Regions from separate parts of the Homo sapiens genome. Here region 1 is linked to region 2. Evidence: fine-mapped expression QTL. Tissue or cell type: testis. Region 2 holds a variant in brackets; the other region holds the start of a gene. All regions are shown on one strand. Distances are between the middles of the regions.

Region 1 (5,110 bases), 81 kb before region 2:
CAACATGACTACATTAAGAGCTCATCAATGGTCAATTCAATATGTTTTGTTGCCTCTTGTTAAGGCTAGTGCCTATTAATGAGCTGGGCATTTAAGAGATGCCTAGTAAATTATTTGTGGGATGACTAAACTAATTAACCTGGTGAAAGACTATGCTAATATATTTTTGCAAAAGAGATAGAGAAAGACTGAATTCACAGGAATGGTAGGGATGCTGAGAAAATAGTTCTACAAAGTACCTACTATGTGCTAGGCACTTTTCACAATCATAAGATGTGAATGTTCAGGTCATCTCTTGGTGTATAACAAATCACCCCAAACTTCGTCTCTTAAAGTAATAATTAGCTTGCTTGTGAATTTGTTCTTAGGTGGTTACATAGCAGGAACAGCACCTCTTTGTTCTAAGACAGCTCAACAGGGGGCTAGAGTATCCACTTTCAAAACAGTTCACTCCTGTACTCCAGCCTTTATGGAACCACCCTAGTGGCATAGGCTCCTCACTCACAGCCCCAGGCTGGCTCTGGGTTGGATGGGTTGGGACAGAAAACTCTTGCCATGAAAATATAGCTCTCCATCTCAGCCTCTCCACTCCCCATTCCAAAGGGAGACGTGTCTGTGCTTGGGGAGAAGCCAAGCAAAGCAAAAGATTTCAACAGCGAAAGGAGGAAACACACCCACTGAGGTTCTCATAGCAACATAATCACGCACAGGCAGCAGCCTATTTCGGTGGGAGCTTGTTTCAGCTCCCCTCCTCCCTGGTTAGTCACAGAAGGCATGCACAAGCAGAAGCAGTGTTGGGTGGGGGCAGAGTGTCGGACTGAAAGTCAGGAGGCTGGGGAGCTGGGTCCTCTGCTTGCTGATGGACCATGGGCAAATGTCCTCCTCTCTCCAATCTTGGGGTCCTTATTTGTAAAATGAGAGGATTGGACCACAGAGCGGTGAGGATCATTTCTTTTCTGATTTCCTTTGATTGCACAAACACTGAGACACTTTTGGTAGGGAATTAGATGTCTCTCAGAATCTTTTGTCTCTGAGAAGATGCCTAGAGAAAAGGGAATTCAATAGGATAAAAGTCATTCTCCAGATTCACATTTATTTTCCTACCACTTTCTGCATGTTGACAGAACGGGAGGAACGACTGGGTGTTGTCAAGGATTCTGCTCACTCACCCCCAACTCTAACCCAGGTCTGTGTTCTGAGAAGGGAAAAGGTTAAGGAGGTTAAGGTCATCTTTTTATTCAAGTTTTCACACACACACACACACACACACACACGCGCGCACACACACACACACACACTCAAGCCTCTTGCTACATTTTCATCCTTCTCATTCTTCATCCTCTCCTGTCTCTATCCCTCACTTCTCACCTCTACTTAGTGCAATGTATCCTCTCTTTGCCCGAGGACCAGATGATGGAGGCATGTTTCCTACTGAGAATGATTCTAGACCTTTTCTTCAATGGACTCTGGGGTTAGTTGAGGACAGTCAGGCTCACACTTCCCAGTTATCGAAGGTGATGATAAAAAGCAAATAGGGCATTTGGGAGGGACCTCCCCAAACAAGTACAGAGATGAAGTGAAGACAGCCGGGTGCTCAGGGAGCATCTTATAGGTCTCAGTCCTTGACTCGTAGGTTGAAAGCTTAAAAGTACAGCTGTTTTAAGGAGTCAGCCTGAGTGTCCTGTTGCAAAGGGAGAGGCAGAATGGGGTCCCCCGCTTTTGTTCTATCTCCCACTGCCCGACAGATGGCCAGTAAAACAGAGAAAAAGAAGCTCTCAAAGTGAAGACAGGAATGCATTGTATAAAAATTCACACCCCCTGCTGCCGCCCAAACTCCCTTAAAAAAGGATCAAGAGAATCCTGACGGGTACGTGACATCCTCCCTCTCTCCCATAAAAGGGACTTCAAAATCTGGCGATGGTGGGGGAAGGGTGAGGAGGGAGAAGAGAAATGCGTGGGCAGGGGGCTGCCAGGGAAGACTGGAGTGGGGGGGGGGGCACTGCAGTCTCGCATTTGACTTTCTCCCACCCTCTTTCCCAAGCCACTCTGGCCGCCACCTTTGCCCCTCCCTCTCAGCCTGAAAGGGGCTTGGAGTCCCAAGGGCTTTGGGTACAAAGAGAGAGAGAGAGAGAGAGAGAGAGAGAGAGAGAGAGAGAGAGAAAAGGATAAAGAATGACACCACACTTACCCCTAGAGTTGAAGGAGTTAAGGACCCTCCCCCATCCAGACACCCACCCCTTCGTTCCCCAAATCGTAATTCGCCGAGGAAGGATCCAGGAACTGGCAGAGGAGCGGGAGAGCTGGGGTGGGCCGGGGTGGGGAGGGTGCGAGTTAACTGTGGCCCGGTCTCGCCCGGACCTCGCCCTAGGTGGGAGCACGCGCACCGGGTCTGAGAACCTGCAAGAGCCTCGCCCGGCGCCGGCTTTCTCTGGGCCCCCCGCGCGGGCCTGGCCTCCACGTAAGTTGTGTGCAGCGCCAGGGAGTGGAGGCGGCCGAGACCCTCGGAGACTAGGGGAGGGGGCGGGCCCGGGGGCGCTGGGGGCCCTCGGTCTGCGCCCAGCCGCCGCCGGCTCCAGCGAACCTCCTACCCCGCCCCCACTCACCCGGCTCAGCCCCTAGGAGAGACGCGCAGGAAGCGTGTTGCTTCGCCCAGCGGATCGGCAGAAGTTGAGAGGAGTTGGCGGCTGCCTCCGGCCGGCCGGACTTTGCGAGCAGCCTGGAGAGGATCCGCGACCGCCGCCGCCGCCGCCGCGGAGGCTTCGGGGCTGCTTCCCTCGAGCTTAGCCCGCAGCGCGGGTGGAGAGGGGCGGGGAGGGGGTCGGGGGCACGAGAAGAACTTGAAACCGTGTGAAGGAATCCGGAGCAGATGAGAAGGGAGGAAAATAAAAGAAAGTGGAGACTGCAGAACAGACTCCGCTGTGGCTGACTGTGCCGGCCGACGCTCCAGCTGAGGGGCTGGGTTGGATTTTTTTTTTTCTCCCATCCTCTCGCTCTCTCTTTTAAAGCGACACCAGCTCTCTCTCCTCCTCTACTATCTCGGTATCACCAAACCCTTGCCGGCTCTTATGGGCATGAAACACTCCTCCCGCTGCCTGCTCCTGAGGAGGAAAATGGCGGAGAACGCGGCCGAGAGCACCGAGGTAAGGAGGCGAGCGAGCAGGGGCTCTCGGAGACCCCGCCGCCCACCCGGACCACCGCGCCGCCGCCGCCGCTCAGCGCCGAGTGCCAAACTTTCCCCAGTTTCATCCCGCTCGCTTCTGCCGGCCTCCTCCTGTGTGTGTGTGTGTGTGTGTGTGTGTGTGTGTGTGTGTGTGTGTGTGTGTGTGTGTTGGTGGGGGGTGGGGGGGAAGTTCATGTCTCAGGTCCCCTCCCTCTTGAAAATGCAAAACAGTCACTCTCACCCCATCACCCTCTCCTGCCACCCGCTGCTCCCTTCTCCCGCCCCCAAGTCCCAAACCCCGGGCAGCCGCGCTCCCCTGCCCTCTCCTCTGGGCTCCGTGAGGGCTCCCGGGTCCCGGCTTTGTGCAGAGCTGGGGTGGGTAATCCTGGGGCCAGGTCTGCCCCCTGCAGTGCCTTGACCGTCTCCTGCCGCTGCCTCAGCTTTACCCTTCAAGCTCGAGTCGGTTCCCGAGCTCTCCGTCCCCGCAGCCGCGCGGAGAGCCCCCGGCCGCGGGGGCCGAGCCGGCAGGAGGACTCGGGCACCTCCTACAGACCCTCCGGCCCAGATCTGGGCCAGAGAGAAGTCTGCAATCCTCAGATATCAGAGCCGCCTCTGGGTAGCTAAACCCGGCAGGGCACACGGGCCGCGGCCACCTTCAGCACCAGGGACAGCGTCCGCCCCTGCAGCAGCCGAGCCTGCGCGGACTGTGGGGGCTGCGCGCCGCCGGCTGCAGTGAGAAATGGGTCTGCAGCCACCCGTCCCGCAAGGGCTTTTGAGGAGGTCGCTCTAGCTCCGCAAATTGTGTTCTCGGCCCCCGCCTTCGGCAGCCTTTTTCTCTACTCTCCAGCTGGCCCTGAGCCGCAGAGAGCCCTGCTGGGCTTTGCGTCCCGAGACTCGAGGCTGTGATCCCTCGCCTCCCTCTGACCCCGCTGTCATTACAACAACCGGACTATTCCGTAGGCTCTGGGCACCTGTAGTCACGAAGGGGATCAGCGTGGGCAGCCCCCTTACCTTCCTGGAGAAACGGTGCGCCGAGATGGGGGCGGAGTGGGGCATGTGTGTGAAGATCATCCCTTACTCAGTGGCAGGAAAAAGACACAGAGAGCAAACTCCCAGGCTCTATTAATAGCTGGGTGTCTGGTGGGGCTGCCGCACATTTCACATATGGTTACCCATATGCAGCGGGGGGCGGGGATGGGGGTGTGGCGCGGGGATTGTCCCTCTGTCTTGCCGGAATGCAAAAAGGTAGAGAGACCCTTCCTGGTCTTCTTCCCTCGAGTTCTTAACTCTGCGCTAAAACCCCTACCCCACGGCGTAGGCAGCAAAGCTTTATAAATCCCCCTTCTCTGAGAGACTAGAAGCAGCATGCATCTGACAATTGTCAATTTCAAAACAAACACGCTCCGGGACTTGAACGCAGCGGGGCATTCAGTAGCGAATGCTGTCTCCTTGAGTTAGGGCAAAGCCTGCGTGCCCGCCGTCCCCTCACCACTTCCTCTTCCCCAGCCCCCACCTGAGAGCAGACATTCGGAATGATGTGTAGTGCGAGGCGGCTAGCCTCCCAGCAGAAAGCCATCCTTACCATTCCCCTCACCCTCCGCCCTCTGATCGCCCACCCGCCGAAAGGGTTTCTAAAAATAGCCCAGGGCTTCAAGGCCGCGCTTCTGTGAAGTGTGGAGCGAGCGGGCACGTAGCGGTCTCTGCCAGGTGGCTGGAGCCCTGGAAGCGAGAAGGCGCTTCCTCCCTGCATTTCCACCTCACCCCACCCCCGGCTCATTTTTCTAAGAAAAAGTTTTTGCGGTTCCCTTTGCCTCCTACCCCCGCTGCCGCGCGGGGTCTGGGTGCAGACCCCTGCCAGGTTCCGCAGTGTGCAGCGGCGGCTGCTGCGCTCTCCCAGCCTCGGCGAGGGTTAAAGGCGTCCGGAGCAGGCAGAGCGCCGCGCGCCAGTCT
Region 2 (5,202 bases):
AAGTACTTAGGACTTGCATGGCTGCCAGAGCCAGGTGTGCTATTCATCTGGGCTTCTCCAGGCCAAAGTCGTAACATCTCTCACTGCTCCTCACTGGATTTACCTTCACCTCACCTCATTTGTCCTATTGACTCCACCTAGGTCCCTTAAATTTTCCTTGCTCCAAAATAAAAATTGAGCACTGCTGTCCTAGCCCTCACCCCAGACAAGGTGACAGTCCACTGCATGAGAGATGGTGGCAAGGGGGTGCTTGTCTGGTGACTCTATGTGCAGTTCAAAATGTGATGTCTTTGTCAGGTGAATAGATTACGAGACCCATTTCCCCACAATTCATCAACAGAAACCTGGAGGGCTTATGTTTCCAGACCGGGCAGCTTTGTACGTGGTAGCGATTGAAGACAGACAGTACAAGGACTTCAAAATCCACTGTAAGTCCCCTCTTGCTTCTCCGGTGGACTTCCACTGCACAATTGGGGTGGGAGGCACTCCAGTGGGCCCGAGATGAGCAGGCAGTGACATGAACACCATTGCTGTCCCTGAAGAGGAGCTTATCTGGGACCCTTTCTGGAGTCTGCTCTCTAAATGTTTCTATCTAGTCCCAAGGGTGTTAGGTCTACAGACAGAAAATAAGCCATATGGCTGGGATGAGAGAAATGTCCTGGGGTGAAAGAATGAATGCAATGTGAATTAAAAATTGGACTGAGGCAGCAGAAGCTGAGTTTTTGCAGAGATCAGCAGGGCAAGTGGCTTGAAACCTGTCAAGGTTCAGTTAGCCCAAAAGTCCACCGCAGGGGTCTGAAGTAGCAGGTCTCTTGCCAGGCCAATTGTTTTGAATCCTGCCTCCATTCCATTCAAACTTATCAAAATAATATTGATTCTCTTATGCAAATACATATTATTTGAGGTTCTTTTGAGGAATAGATAGCAGAGGGGGTGGGAAAGAGTGGAGATTTTGCTTTGAACAATCAAACGAAAGGCGAGTGTGCATGTGTGCATGAGGCAGGGGCTCGTATCTAAACATGTATTCTTAATGCCTTATCAGCTAGGCGTGTGTGGTTCTCTGAGAACAATAAAGCCAAAAAACTTCTCCTCCCCCGCAATGTTTTACCTGGTCTGAAAAGGGCTGTTATCCTATTTCTCGTAAAGGGTGACACTTCTCTGTGACACAGGCCTGATCCTTAATGAGATTATACCAAACATGTTTTTGTAAAGTTGAACATGGCTGTGTCTCCTCAACCAGAACCAAATACAACAAAGGAGCAAAGAACCCCTCAAACAGGCAAACACCCAAAAATCCAAATTAAAGCAAGAGGCAGAAGCTCCAACCTATCCATCAGACTGGGCACATCTGCGGTTCCTGCCCCAACAGGGTGGTCCATTCCTACTTGGCAAGATTACTGTGGAGGGGTTCACAGATTGAGTAGAAGAATAAATGCCTCCAAGAGGCTAAGACTCCATCCACAGTTCAACAAATTGTGGCTCTGTGGATTTAAACAATTGCCATCTAATCGTCGTTAGTGGCACTGATGAAAACTCGGCTGGACTCTGCTATGGATGTGTGTATTTGTGTGGGTTCATGCCTTTCTGGAAATATAAACTCAAAGTGTGAAGTTCAGAGCCAGGTTCAGAAGAAGACAAAAGTGGGACAGCTGTTTGAAGCTCTGTGCCCTGGAAACCGTCTCTGGTTGCTGTCTGCCTCCAGCCAATCTGGTGTGATTTCCACTATTTGACCTCCTGGGGGAAGGAGGCAAAATACCAAATGAGGACAGTGAGAGGCAGGGGGGCCCAGGTTAAATGCTTTGCACACTGCCAGCCCTGGGTTTAAATCTTGGCTTTGCCATGTCCTAACTGGGTAACCTTGAGCAAATTATCTAATACCTTTGGGCCTCAGTTAAGGGATAATTTTCTCAATCCCACAGACTTGTCATGAGGATTAAGTGAGATGACATATATTAAAGGACGTGACAGTTCTTGGTCCTATAATGGGACTAGATGGGAACTAGTTTCTGACTGTGTAGCTAAGCCCCTTTCTGCCCCTGGCTCTGGCAAGTGAGCCTGACTGCCAAGCCCCTGGTGGCTCAGAATCTAGGACAGATGTACTCTCATGGAAGATTGCAGACACAACTCCACAGTGAGTGTTGATCAAATGCATGTATAAATAGGACATATTTTGCCCTGGAGCTGCATTTTGGAGTTCTTGCTGTGCAATTGTACTGAATAGTGTTTTGAGGAGGAAAGCTTCTAGGTACATTCTTCATTGTCAAGTTCACTTAGATATTTATTGAGCTCCAACCCGAGGCACACCTCTTTAAGAAACTTTCTCATGGTTTCCACAACAAAGATACCTGTGTCAGGAGCCTTTGCAGGTATGCACATTGCAATGAGCCAGCCTGGGGCAGGGAGGGGCTCCTAAGGCACTGGCCCCAGACTGGAGATCATGTGATTTCTTTGATTCTCATTGCAGTGTTCATACCTTTTGGAAAAGGAAAAAAAAAAATCTGAAAGTTAGCACCATGTTATCTTGTGCTTGTTCTAGAGTCTCTGAAAAATACCCCAACCTCCTCCCCACCCCAAAAGAACACCAAGAAACAGACACTTAAAATGTATTTAAAATACATTTTCTATTTACATTTTTGAAAATAATCTATTTTTTTGTAAAGGAAGCAAACCCACTTAGAAATTCATTTCAAATAAATGGAGACTTTGGTTACTATGAGTTCTAAATCAGAAGTAAAGCACAAAGGTTGCTGGTTGCTAAGGCAACAATTGTAAGCAA[T/G]TTTCTATTGGCTCAAGAACCAGCTAAGAAGGAAAAATTTTGAAATGAGGCAGGAGAGTGAGACATGTTCAGCCCCTTTCAGAAAGTAAGTTGTTAGAGGGAGAGCTTTCTTTCCTTTCCTCTCCTTTCCTTTTCTTTTATTTCCTTCCCTCTCCTTCCCTTCCCTCCCCTCCTTTCTTCTTCTTTCTCAACCACACACAGCAACATGGGAGTGCAAGAATGAGGTCAGTGCAGAACCTGCCCTCCATTTGCTCACCAATGAATAGAGACCACATAGAGACAGAGATAAATATCTGGCATATACTAGGCTCACAATACATAATTTTAACGAAGGAAGGAAGGAAGGAAGGAAAGTGAACCAGCAGAGGGATGTGCAAGGTGTAGTATTTAACTCTTAGAGAGGAGCAATCATTTTACACACATTTTCTACTATAAAGGAAATACACAGAATTTCAAAAATGGAAGGAAACTCGGTGGATGTTCTATTCAATTTCATGCACAACCCATGAATTGTACCCAGTGCATGAATCTACACCCTGCTGAGAATGAGAGAGATGGGCACCAGTTTCTTGGCTGATGAGAAGACTGAAAGAAAGACCTCATGCAGAGGTGGCAGTGCTTATAGCTTGATGGTTGAAGGGCGGCCCTCTTGGATGGCTCAGCTGCTGTCTGTGGGCTTCACTTCCACTCATGACATCCAGAGTTTCCTCTGGTTCCAGCCCATTTTATGCAAGGATTCCACTTTCTTCATGAGAGCCTAAAATGTGTCAATCTAGTGTAAACACTTTCCCTTCTGCACAGAGGAGAATCTGTAAGTAGCATCTGGTGGCACTTGTTCTATTTTTCTCTGACCTCATTCTGAGGCAGTCCCATTAGCCTCATCAGAGAAACTCAGATGGTTGGGGCTGGGGTGGTGAGGGAGGATGTAGCTACAGCTCTCTGCAATCAGAAATCACATTTCTCCCCTGGTACTTAATTTTCTTTCCTCAGACTGTTTTTGAGATTTCTGTCTTTATTGATTTTCTGCAGTTTGATTCTGATGTGTCTAGGTGTGTTTTTCTTTTTATTTATCCTGCTTGGGGTTACATGGAATTCTTGGAACTGTGGATGGATTGTTTCGTTAGTTTAGAAAAATTTCAGCCAGTATCTCTACAAATATTTTTTTCTGCCTGATTATCTTTCTCCCCTTCTTCAGGAACTCCCATTATATGAAATAATGTTTGATATTGTCCTATGGAGCTTGGATCCTCTATTTTTTTCACCCCTTTTTTCTCTTTGTGTTTAAGTTTGGATCATTTTTATTGCCCCGTTTTCAACTTTATTGGTTATTCCCTGATATATTCATTCTGTTAATAAGTTCATTTTAAAAAGTCTTCTTTCCTTATATTGTTATTTCGATTTCTAACATTTCCACTGGCTTTTTTAAAAAGTTTCCATCTCGCTAATGAAATTCTCCATTCATTGATGCACACTGTCCACCTTTTCCACTAGCTTCTTTAACATACTTAGTATAGATACTTTAAAGTCTTGTTGGATAATTCTAACATCTGAGCATCTCTAAATTTGGTTCTATGACTTTTTTCTTATGATGATAAGTCATATTTTTCCCTTTCTCATGTGTCTTATAATTTTTCATTAATGCTGGGCATTGTGAGTAAAAGGACCAGTAGAGACAGGTGAATCACACCTATGTCCAGAAAAGAGCATTGCCTCTGCCAGGCTATTAGAATGAGGGTGTGTGTGAGTCAATCTAGTCTGTATTAATAGTAGATTTGGGCTTTGTTGTTGCTTTAATTACATACATTATGCCATAGTATAGTCCTTTTTAGGAGTCTGTTTTCATCCATTAACAAAAGCTTCACAGGCCTCTCTGATATTATTTTTTAATTTCTAGATAATCATGATATTTCTTGATGACCAATGGCTCTTACCCCACATACACTTATTTGGCATACAGCATACAAATAATTATTGCAACAAATAATTAATGTGATTTATTTGTATCCTACTCCATCTCTGCTCCACTTCTGATAAAAAGGGCTACTGGGAAATAAATGGCCAGCAGAAAGAAGAAAAAAAAATCTAATCCCTTGGGTGATCTGTGCTCTGAATGATTGAAGGTGGGGCAGTCCAGCTGAGGAGATAAGACCCAAATTAACCCATATAAAGGTAACTAAAACACCAGGCATTGCAAAACAGTGCAGGCATTAAATGTTTGGGAATGAATCTCAATTCAAAAAACATTATCTGTGAGCCTATTCTGTGCTAAATGCTGTACTATGGGTGTTGAGGGTACAGGAGAGGTTATATGGTCAGGAGCGTTTAGAGAAGGTCTCACAAAGGCCATGAGACATTAAGATCACCATTTTTGGGACTTGAAGACAGTAAAGATCATGTACCCCAAAGGTTTCCAAATGGTTGGAATT

Evidence for each region. PIP is the estimated chance that this variant, and not a neighbour inherited with it, causes the effect.
Region 1: it holds the start of PRMT8, and the variant in region 2 is fine-mapped to the expression of PRMT8 in testis (GTEx, PIP above 0.99).

What each region holds. Positions count from the first base shown.
Region 1 is chr12:3,488,561-3,493,670 of GRCh38, forward strand. PRMT8 (protein arginine methyltransferase 8) reads left to right here and starts at 2,643. Exons shown (of 10, transcript NM_019854.5): 1 at 2,643-3,140. The coding sequence starts at 3,066. THCAT155 (thyroid cancer-associated transcript 155) reads right to left here and starts at 4,259. Exons shown (of 2, transcript NR_126055.1): 1 at 4,172-4,259; 2 at 1-1,042.
Region 2 is chr12:3,569,137-3,574,338 of GRCh38, forward strand. It overlaps PRMT8 (protein arginine methyltransferase 8), which reads left to right. Exons shown (of 10, transcript NM_019854.5): 6 at 341-428. Among named protein-coding and RNA genes, the nearest start is that of THCAT155, 79 kb to the left of the region's middle. The variant T/G (reference allele first, on the strand shown) is at 2,777.